Linked DNA regions of Homo sapiens: regions 1 and 3 are each linked to region 2. The links come from fine-mapping of genetic effects on gene expression. A gene starts in region 2. Each other region holds a variant in brackets. All regions are shown on one strand. Distances are from middle to middle. Region 1 holds the start of CLPS (colipase). Region 2 holds the start of SRPK1 (SRSF protein kinase 1). Region 3 holds the start of SLC26A8 (solute carrier family 26 member 8).

Region 1 (2,844 bases), 120 kb after region 2:
CAGCTTGGTCTGGATCAAAGCTGTGCTTGAGGCTGGGCACAGTGGCTCACACCTGTAATCCCAACACTTTAGGAGGCCGAGGTGGGAAGATTGCTTGAGCCCACGAGTTTTAGACCTGGGAGGCTTAGGGGGAAGATTGCTTGATCTCAGGAGGTGGAGGCTGCAGTGAGCCAAGATGGCACAACTGCACTTCGGCCTAGGTGACAGAGTGAGACCTTGTCTCAAAAAATTAAATTAAATTAAATTAAAAGCTGTGCTTGAGGCCTGGGCCTCTCAGTGGAGCTGTCTTCTACCTCCTGGGATGGAGAGGGGAAGGGCAGGGGCCTCTGGCTGCCATGACTAGTCCTTCAGGAAAAGCTGCTCTGTTCCCATGCCTGAGCAAACTCAGGCAGCTGTGCCCTTCCCAGCTTCCTGAGGCCCCTGCTCCATCTGAGGCTCATGAGACCTCTTCATTCTCAGCCAGGACTAGCGACTGCTCACGCGCGCACGTGGCCTTGGGTAGGGGGCAGCGTGAGTGGAAACCTTAACTAAAGGGGTGAGTATCTGATGCTGGAATTGCAGATAGTAAGTGAGGTAGAAAGGAAAGGGGAGAGAGGCATTTAGGAAGGGCCTCCTAAGGGCCCTTGAGTCAGGCCTGCAGGCAGCCCCTGGTGTGAGGGCAGGGGGAGGGTGCCAAAGTGAAAGCACACACACCCTGGCCTGCTGGGGGTTGCAGAACTGTCAGCCCCAGGGATCTGGGCATGGCCTGGAATCCCCCGAGGAGACTGAAGGAAGGTTGAGGGGTGGGAGGCTAGGATCCTCGTCCCTGGAGTCTGACACTGCTAGACACCTGGGCTTGGGTGGGCCAAAGGCAAGGCCTGACTATAGTGAGGCAGAGAGGCCCCAAGTACACAGAATGTAAGCAGGCACTCACACCATAGGTGCCTCTCTTGCCTTGGATTCGTCCAGGCACTGCCCAGGAGCTCAAGACACAAGGGCAGCCACCCTTACCCACTGCTTATGTGGCATATGGGAATATACAATATAAATATATTCTTATAATTGTATATAATAATGTTTATATATATGTAACACATA[A/TAA]ATGTGTATTAATTCAACCCTCACAACTCTTTAAATTATCCTTAGTTGACAGATAAGATGAAAGGCAGAATAGTTGGAACAGATAGTAAGTTTGCCTCACTAATAACTTGTACACAGTCCATACTCTTAACCACGATGCAACACAATTATCACCAACACACACACACACACACACACACACACACACACACACACGAAAAAGGCCACCAGGTACTCACCCAGTTTCCTTATCAGGAACCGCCCCACAGCAGATTGGCCACAGCTGTGCCTCTGCCCACGGCCAGCCCTGTGGGATGCAGGTGGATCTCGTGAGGTCAGGGCCCCTTTTATAGCCCCATCACCACAGCTGGCTCTGTCTCCCGCCACCCACACCAGCTGTCCCACTCACCATGGAGAAGATCCTGATCCTCCTGCTTGTCGCCCTCTCTGTGGCCTATGCAGCTCCTGGCCCCCGGGGGATCATTATCAACCTGGTAAGAGGGTCTTCAGGGGAGGCGCCTCCTGAGTCCCCAGATGAAGACTTCCTAAGCTTGGACCTTGACCTCTGATGTCTCCACCTGGACTGGCAGGGGCTGGGAGGAGTGGCATCTTGCATCCCTCTGTTTACTTCCATGTCCTGTCCTATGCCTCTTCCCAGAGGCCACAGGAAAGGCTGATCAGCCCCTCTCCAGCTCCAACTGGAGCATGCTCAGAGCAGCAGCTCAACCTGGCTATGAGGGACCTTTTTTTTCTTTTTTTTCTTTTTGAAACGGAGTCTTGCTCTGTCACCAGGCTGGAGTGTAGTGGCACAATCTCGGCTCACTGCAATCTCTGCTTCCCGGGTTCAAATGATTCTCCTGCCTCAGCCTCCCAAGAAGCTGGGATTACAGGTGCCTGCCATAACGCTCAGCTATTTTTTGTATTTTTAGTAGAAATAGGGTTTCACCATGTTGCCCAGGCTAGTCTCAAACTCCTGACCTCGTGATCCGCCCACCTCGGCCTCCCAAAGTGCTGGGATTACAGGCATGAGCCACCTCACCTGGCCCTACGAGGGAGCTTTGTAAAAATCCAGAGCCCTGGGCTTCCATCCTGAGAAAATGCTTTGCGCCAATCATTCCAGCTTCTGACTTATGGAGATGCCTCGGAGATGTTTACTCATTCTGTTCTCATAATAACCACTGAGGGAGGTGTTTTCAGAGTCAGCCCTGTCTTCAGACAGAGAGAGGGTGAGCAACCTGCCTGAGGTCACATAGCTGGAAAGTGGTTCAGCTGGGGCCCCACCACTGCCCCACACCACCTCTCCACCATGGGTCTTGGCTGGGAAAGCCCTTCCAGAACGTCCATGCGGTTGAAAGGTTCTGAACTCTCTTAACTTGGGGCCATGGCTGGACTTGGAGGTCCAGGACCCTTGGAGATTATAGATCAGATCTGTTGGGGGAGGAAGGAGTCTTGCAGGGAGATGCAATCTTCACCGCCTCCTTAAAGAGGTGTGGGACCCAGAGTGGTTTGGAGAACTTGTCTAGGGGCCTTGTGTGCACATTCCAAATGGGAACACTGAGGCTTGGGAGGCAGTGACTTGCCCAGAGTCACACAGGAGGTTGGTAGCACAGCCGGTACTAGAACCCAGGGGTCCTGACCCTCTGTGCAAGTCTGCTTCTCTGTCACCGCATGCCCACTTCTCACGTGGGTGGGGGGCACAGAGGCCACCAGACCCAGGGGATGGACTCCTTCACACACATCCCTACCAGGGGAGACACTGTTAGTGGTAGTGTGTGGTGGGTACAGGTC
Region 2 (2,500 bases):
AAATAAGAATAACCGTTGAAACGGTTGAAAAAAGATCAAAAGGGCCTGGCTCAGTGGCTCACACCTGTAATTCCAGCACCTTGGGAGGCTGAGGTGGGAGGATCACTTGAGCCCTGGATGTCCAGGCTGCAGTGAGCCGAGATCATGCCACTGTACTCCGGCCTAGGCAGCAGAGCAAGACTGCTCTCTCTGTCTTTCTTTAACCCTCACCTTCCCTTCAAAACCTAACAAAGACCATGTTTAAATCAATAGAAGAACATTTTATGACGTGAAAATTATATGAAATTCAAATTTCAGTGTCCATACATAAATCTTTATAGGAACACAGCCCATATTTTCTATGACTGCTTTTGAGCTCCAATGGCAGAGTTGAGTAGCTGAGAAAGAGATCTTATGGTCCACAAAGCCTAAATATTTACTGTACGGCCCAAAGAAAAACTTTGCTGAGCCTGCTATACAATAAGGGCTTCATGATTAAATAACTGGGTCGTACACCAAGATTCTGAACATATAGGCAGGCCCTCTTAAGTTTAGTGTCTTTGTGTAATGGAAGTAATAACTATTTTGCCTTTAAGTTGCCATAAACATCAAATGAGATAATGCACTTAGAAAATAAAAACAAAAAAAACTTATAAACAAGACAGCTTTATCATGTATTGAAGGTGGTAGAATAAGAAAACATTAAACGTTTTTATTCTCATTTCCCCTTCTTTCCTTTACAGCTTTCACTTAAACTTGAAATTTCAAGAGAAAATTCACTTTTGAAGTTTTTACTTTTCAAGTGATAATAGGGTCACAGGTTCTTTCCTTCCAGTCTTTTTGTGTTGCTCCCACTCCCTTTTCTTTCTCACATGTAATTTTTTTCCATTTTCTTTAAATAGTATCTCAACTGGGCTCACAATAGCTCAGGGAAGGAGAAACTGGGACATGCCTGATTAATCCATTTTACAGGCCAGGAAACTGAGGCAGATCCCAGTTGCCTCCGAAGCTCTGACTCAGCAGCATGCAGAGAGCCCTGCCGCTCTCTGCGCCTTTTCTAAACAAATAGAACAAAACTAACCTTGCCAGGTTTCCAAGCTTGGATCTCTAACACTCCTTCAACGTTCACCCCGGCGTTCCTCCCCGCTGCGCCCCCTCCCTCTCCTTGCCGCCCCCTCCTCGGGAGCAGGTGGTAGGCTCCGCGCCCAACGCGCAAGCGCGCGGCATCGTGGGGCGGGGGTGGGGCGGGACTGAGGGCGGAGTGTGAGCGGGCTCGGTTTTGGGCCGCGGCGGGAGCGGGAGTCGCCGCCACTCGAGTGCGCAGGCGCCTGGCGATTACCGGTCTCACCATGGAGCGGAAAGGTGAGCGGTGGAGCGGCCTCCGCCACGAGGGGCAATGGTCGCCGGGGCGAGGCCCGGGTCAGCGCCGGGAGCTTCGCTTAACTGCCGCGGTTCGGTTCCCGGACGTGCGGCGCCCCTCCACTGAGGTGGCGCCGCCCCACACCCCCTGCCTCTGGGCTGCGGGTCCGCGCCCCTCAGTCCGGGCGTCCTCTGGCGCCGGCCGTAGCCGCCCCTTGTTCCCCGCCAGGCCGGCTCGCGCCTTGGGGCCACTCCAGGGCCCGGCCCTTGGCGGGCGACGCAGACCCCCACCCGCCCGCCCCCTGACCCGGCCTGAGACCCCTCCGGCGCATCCCGCCCGGGCGCTGCTCTGCGCCCCGTGGGCCGCCAGCCCCACGGCCGGCCGCCTCGCCGGAGCCCGCAGCCGCCCCCGAGGCAGGCCCCGCAGCCGGGCCTGGCGCCCCTGCTGGGTCTCCACCCTCACCTTGGTCGCCTCCTTTCCTCCACATTCGCCCTTCATCCATCCCTCTCTCCTGCAGTGCTTGCGCTCCAGGCCCGAAAGAAAAGGACCAAGGCCAAGAAGGACAAAGCCCAAAGGAAGTGAGTCTTGTACCCCAACATCCCATTCTTTGGATTTTCCTCCGGCACCTTCTCTGCTCTGGTTTCACGTCTTGAACGTGCACCGGGTTTGGGCACCCTGTGGCTGCAGCCACATGGCCTCGGGGCAGCTCGGAGGGTCGCTCTCCAGCAACCATGTGGAAGAGAGCTGCTGTTGCTCAACGCCAGGCCTGGGTCTTAGCAGCCCCGGGCCTGCTGGAAAGGGCTGTCGGAGGAGGACCAGAGCCCGCCCGGTACCTTTCCTCCCCAACTCCACAGAGGAGGCACAAACTCCCCTAGCTTGGACCTCCCCACCGGAGCTGGTAGATCATTATCGGTCTGTTTCTGAACTCTGGTCTCTCTTACCTGCTCCCCAACGTCTTAACTTGCCTCCGACGTCTTCACGGTAGGCCTTAAGGAAATTCTTGAATGAATTTTTCCGTGTTTACTTTGGGTTCTACCAACCACACACTCCCTTTCATAGAGGAGGGCATGGGGCTTTTCCCTGGGTTAGTCAACTTCCTGAGCCTGTAAGGCGTATCGGCTTTTTTGCAGTGTGCCGGCAGACCGCTGTGTATACAGTCGG
Region 3 (2,844 bases), 100 kb before region 2:
GTCATCAAACAAACAAGTGTAAAACTGTAACTGGGCCAAGCAGGAATACAAGGTGGAGTGAGAGACAGTGCTAGGGACAGGGATAGGGTGGGAGGAGGGTAAAGGGAGTGAGTGCAGATGGCATGTCTGCATCCAGAGCAGATCTGGGCAGGAGGGTGTCATTCAGTGGGGAGAGCCGGGTTTGTGGGGCAGACAGCCTATGGTTGGAGACCTGGGTGACCCTCCTAGCCTCCATTTCTTTTTACCTCTTCTGACCTGAGGAAGGCTTAAGTCTTCCGGAGACGTTAGTGAATTACCGTCTGTGCAGTACACATGTGACACATGTGCACTGCTGTATGTTCAGGACACGAGGCCTGGCACCAAATAGGCCCTCGATCAAGAATAGCAAAACCTCGGAGAGAGAAGGAGCCTTGGTATACAGGTTTACCAAATACCAAGGGGATCCCACGACTCAGGTATGAGGAGGGCGACCCAGGTACCACTTTCCTGGCTCCCTAGCCCAGCTGCTCATGCTCCTCTTCCTCGTCCCCTCCCCCACTCTCATCTCCTCAGCCCGCCCGGAACGCCCGCGGGCTAGGCCACAACGGCTCGGGAACCGCCGCCGGTATCCGCGTCCGCAGCGCCGCCAGCCAGGCGAGAGCCGTGTGGGATCCCAGCGCCCGCACTCCCGCCCCCGCCAAGGAGCCAGGTGAGCCGCTGCTGGGAGACGCCTGGGCGCCGGGGGCTGCAGGTCCCAGGGCGGGGGCTGCGTCCGTCACCGGCAGGTACCCAGGTATGCCGCAGAGCCAGGCACGCCGTGGGCACTCAGTCAGTATCTGTGGAATGAATGAATGATGGTCGTCCCTGGGAGCTTATCTCTGAGGTATTGTCTCTACTTTCAAAGGCCGTGTGGATGGCAATGACAAGAGACAACAGTGTGTGCGTTTTGCAAGCTGCATCCTTTCAAATTCTCCTGTCTATATTGTCAAAAGCCCCAGAACTGACGTGCTACCTGCACCCCACCGCCTACCCCATCCATTTCCTCCTGAGGCCTGACTGCCCGGCCGTTCCTCTTCCTTTCAGACCCCACTGCTTTTGTTAATTTTGTTCCCTGTGACTGAATCCCCACCCCCACCTCCTTGCCCCTTTCTTTTCATGTCAAATGCC[G/A]TTGATGTGTCAGGGGCCCCGTGAAGCCTTCTCCAGCACCCCCACCCCAATAATGAGCATCTCTCCAACACACCATGTTACTCTATCCACATTGCATGGAAGGTGGTTGTCCTATGTTTATGTGTCCAATGGTCATCCGCTTAAGGACTGTCATCTTACTAGTCATCCCTAGCCACTAGCCAGAGTGACTAAAGGATCTAAAGGCCAGGCTCTTTGCTTATACCTTTTCTGTATTCCCAATACATTCTCCATAAAAACCTAGGTAGTAACAGGTGTAGGGTTGTTTCTGATGGAATTACAAATGCTTATTTTGAAAATTCGGAAGTAAATTTTGCCTTTCCGTGATTATAGAAAACATAAGAAAGTTAACAATATCAGGGGGAAGATATTCCTGCAACTAAACTAGCTTTCAAGATTTCATATTATTTGGGTCAATAGCTAAAAAATTGGATTGTATTTAAACTTTTTATTCTTGACTTTTTTTTTTTTTTTTTTTTTTGAGACAGAGTCTTGCTCTGTCGCCCAGGCTGGAATGCAGTGGTTTGATCTCGGTTCACTGCAACCTCTGCCTCCTAGGTTCAAGCGATTCTCCTGCCTCACCCTCCTGAGTAGCCAGGACTACAGGCACGCCATCATGCTCGGCTAATTTTTGTATTTTTATTAGAGACGGGGTTTCACCATGTTGGCCAGGCTGGTCTTGAACTCCTGACCTCAGCTGATCCAACCGCCTTGGCCTTCCAAAGTGCTGGGATTACAGGCATGAGCCACTGAGCCATGTCTGGCCTATTCTTTACTTTTAAAGCACTCTGAACACAGATAATGTAAATAATTAGATAAATGGATGGATGGATGGATGGATGGATGGATGGATGGATGGATGGATAAGGGTACTATGGAGGGTGAAAGAGCTAGGCCAAAAGTGCTTGTATTTTAACAGGGCCCCCAAATTTAGCACTGAAAGGCTCATGAAAGATAATCCACTATATTTATAGTGGTAGTCATACTTTAATTTTTATCAGAATCACCTGGACAGCTTCTTTGCTTTTTTTCTACCTAGCAAGACCTACTGAATCAGAATCTCTGGGGGCCCAGCAGTCTGGACAGCTTCTTAAAACAGACTGATGGCCCCCAGAGTTTCTGATTCAGTAGGTCTTGCTAAGTGGGGCCTACTCAACAGTAGGAGTTTCTGGTCATTGCATCTTCTTGGGAAGTGTCCTGCTAGTACATGAAAATGAGCCACTAGGATTTCTATGAAATCAAGAAAGACATAATGGAGCTGGAGAAATTCCAAAGAAAATTACTTAAAAAAAATAATAAGGAAACCATGCGTTTACCCTTGCTGCTGTTAGCCAGACATTTGATGGAGTTCCTTAAAGACAACTTTCCACCTGCTCCTCCTAGCCATCCTCACTGTGGTCGTAGGAGTTTATGACTTGATAACATCTCCTAGACTAATATTAATGGTCTCCAATTGGCTGTTTTGCCTCAGTCTCTCCTATCTCCACTGTCCAACAACTTTTTGTGATGATGGAAATTTTTTATATCTGCATATCTGCACTGTCCAGTAAGGTAACCACTAGCCATATGTGGCTGTTGAGCACTTGAAATCTAGCTAGTATAATTGAGGATCTGAATTTTTTATTTTAAGTTTAAATAGCCACATGTAGCCAGTGGCTACCATACTGGACAACTCAGCTC

The links. PIP is the estimated chance that this variant, and not a neighbour inherited with it, causes the effect.
Region 1: its variant is fine-mapped to the expression of SRPK1 in pancreas (GTEx, PIP above 0.99).
Region 3: its variant is fine-mapped to the expression of SRPK1 in whole blood (TOPMed, PIP above 0.99).

What each region holds. Positions count from the first base shown.
Region 1 is chr6:35,795,911-35,798,754 of GRCh38, reverse strand. It overlaps CLPS (colipase), which reads left to right and starts at 1,432. Exons shown (of 3, transcript NM_001832.4): 1 at 1,432-1,550. The coding sequence starts at 1,467. The variant A/TAA (reference allele first, on the strand shown) is at 1,078.
Region 2 is chr6:35,919,885-35,922,384 of GRCh38, reverse strand. It overlaps SRPK1 (SRSF protein kinase 1), which reads left to right and starts at 1,287. Exons shown (of 16, transcript NM_003137.5): 1 at 1,287-1,341; 2 at 1,857-1,917. The coding sequence starts at 1,329. RefSeq lists silencers at 945-1,004, 1,035-1,624.
Region 3 is chr6:36,022,348-36,025,191 of GRCh38, reverse strand. SLC26A8 (solute carrier family 26 member 8) reads left to right here and starts at 551. Exons shown (of 20, transcript NM_052961.4): 1 at 551-688. RefSeq lists enhancers at 105-604, 605-1,106. The variant G/A (reference allele first, on the strand shown) is at 1,147.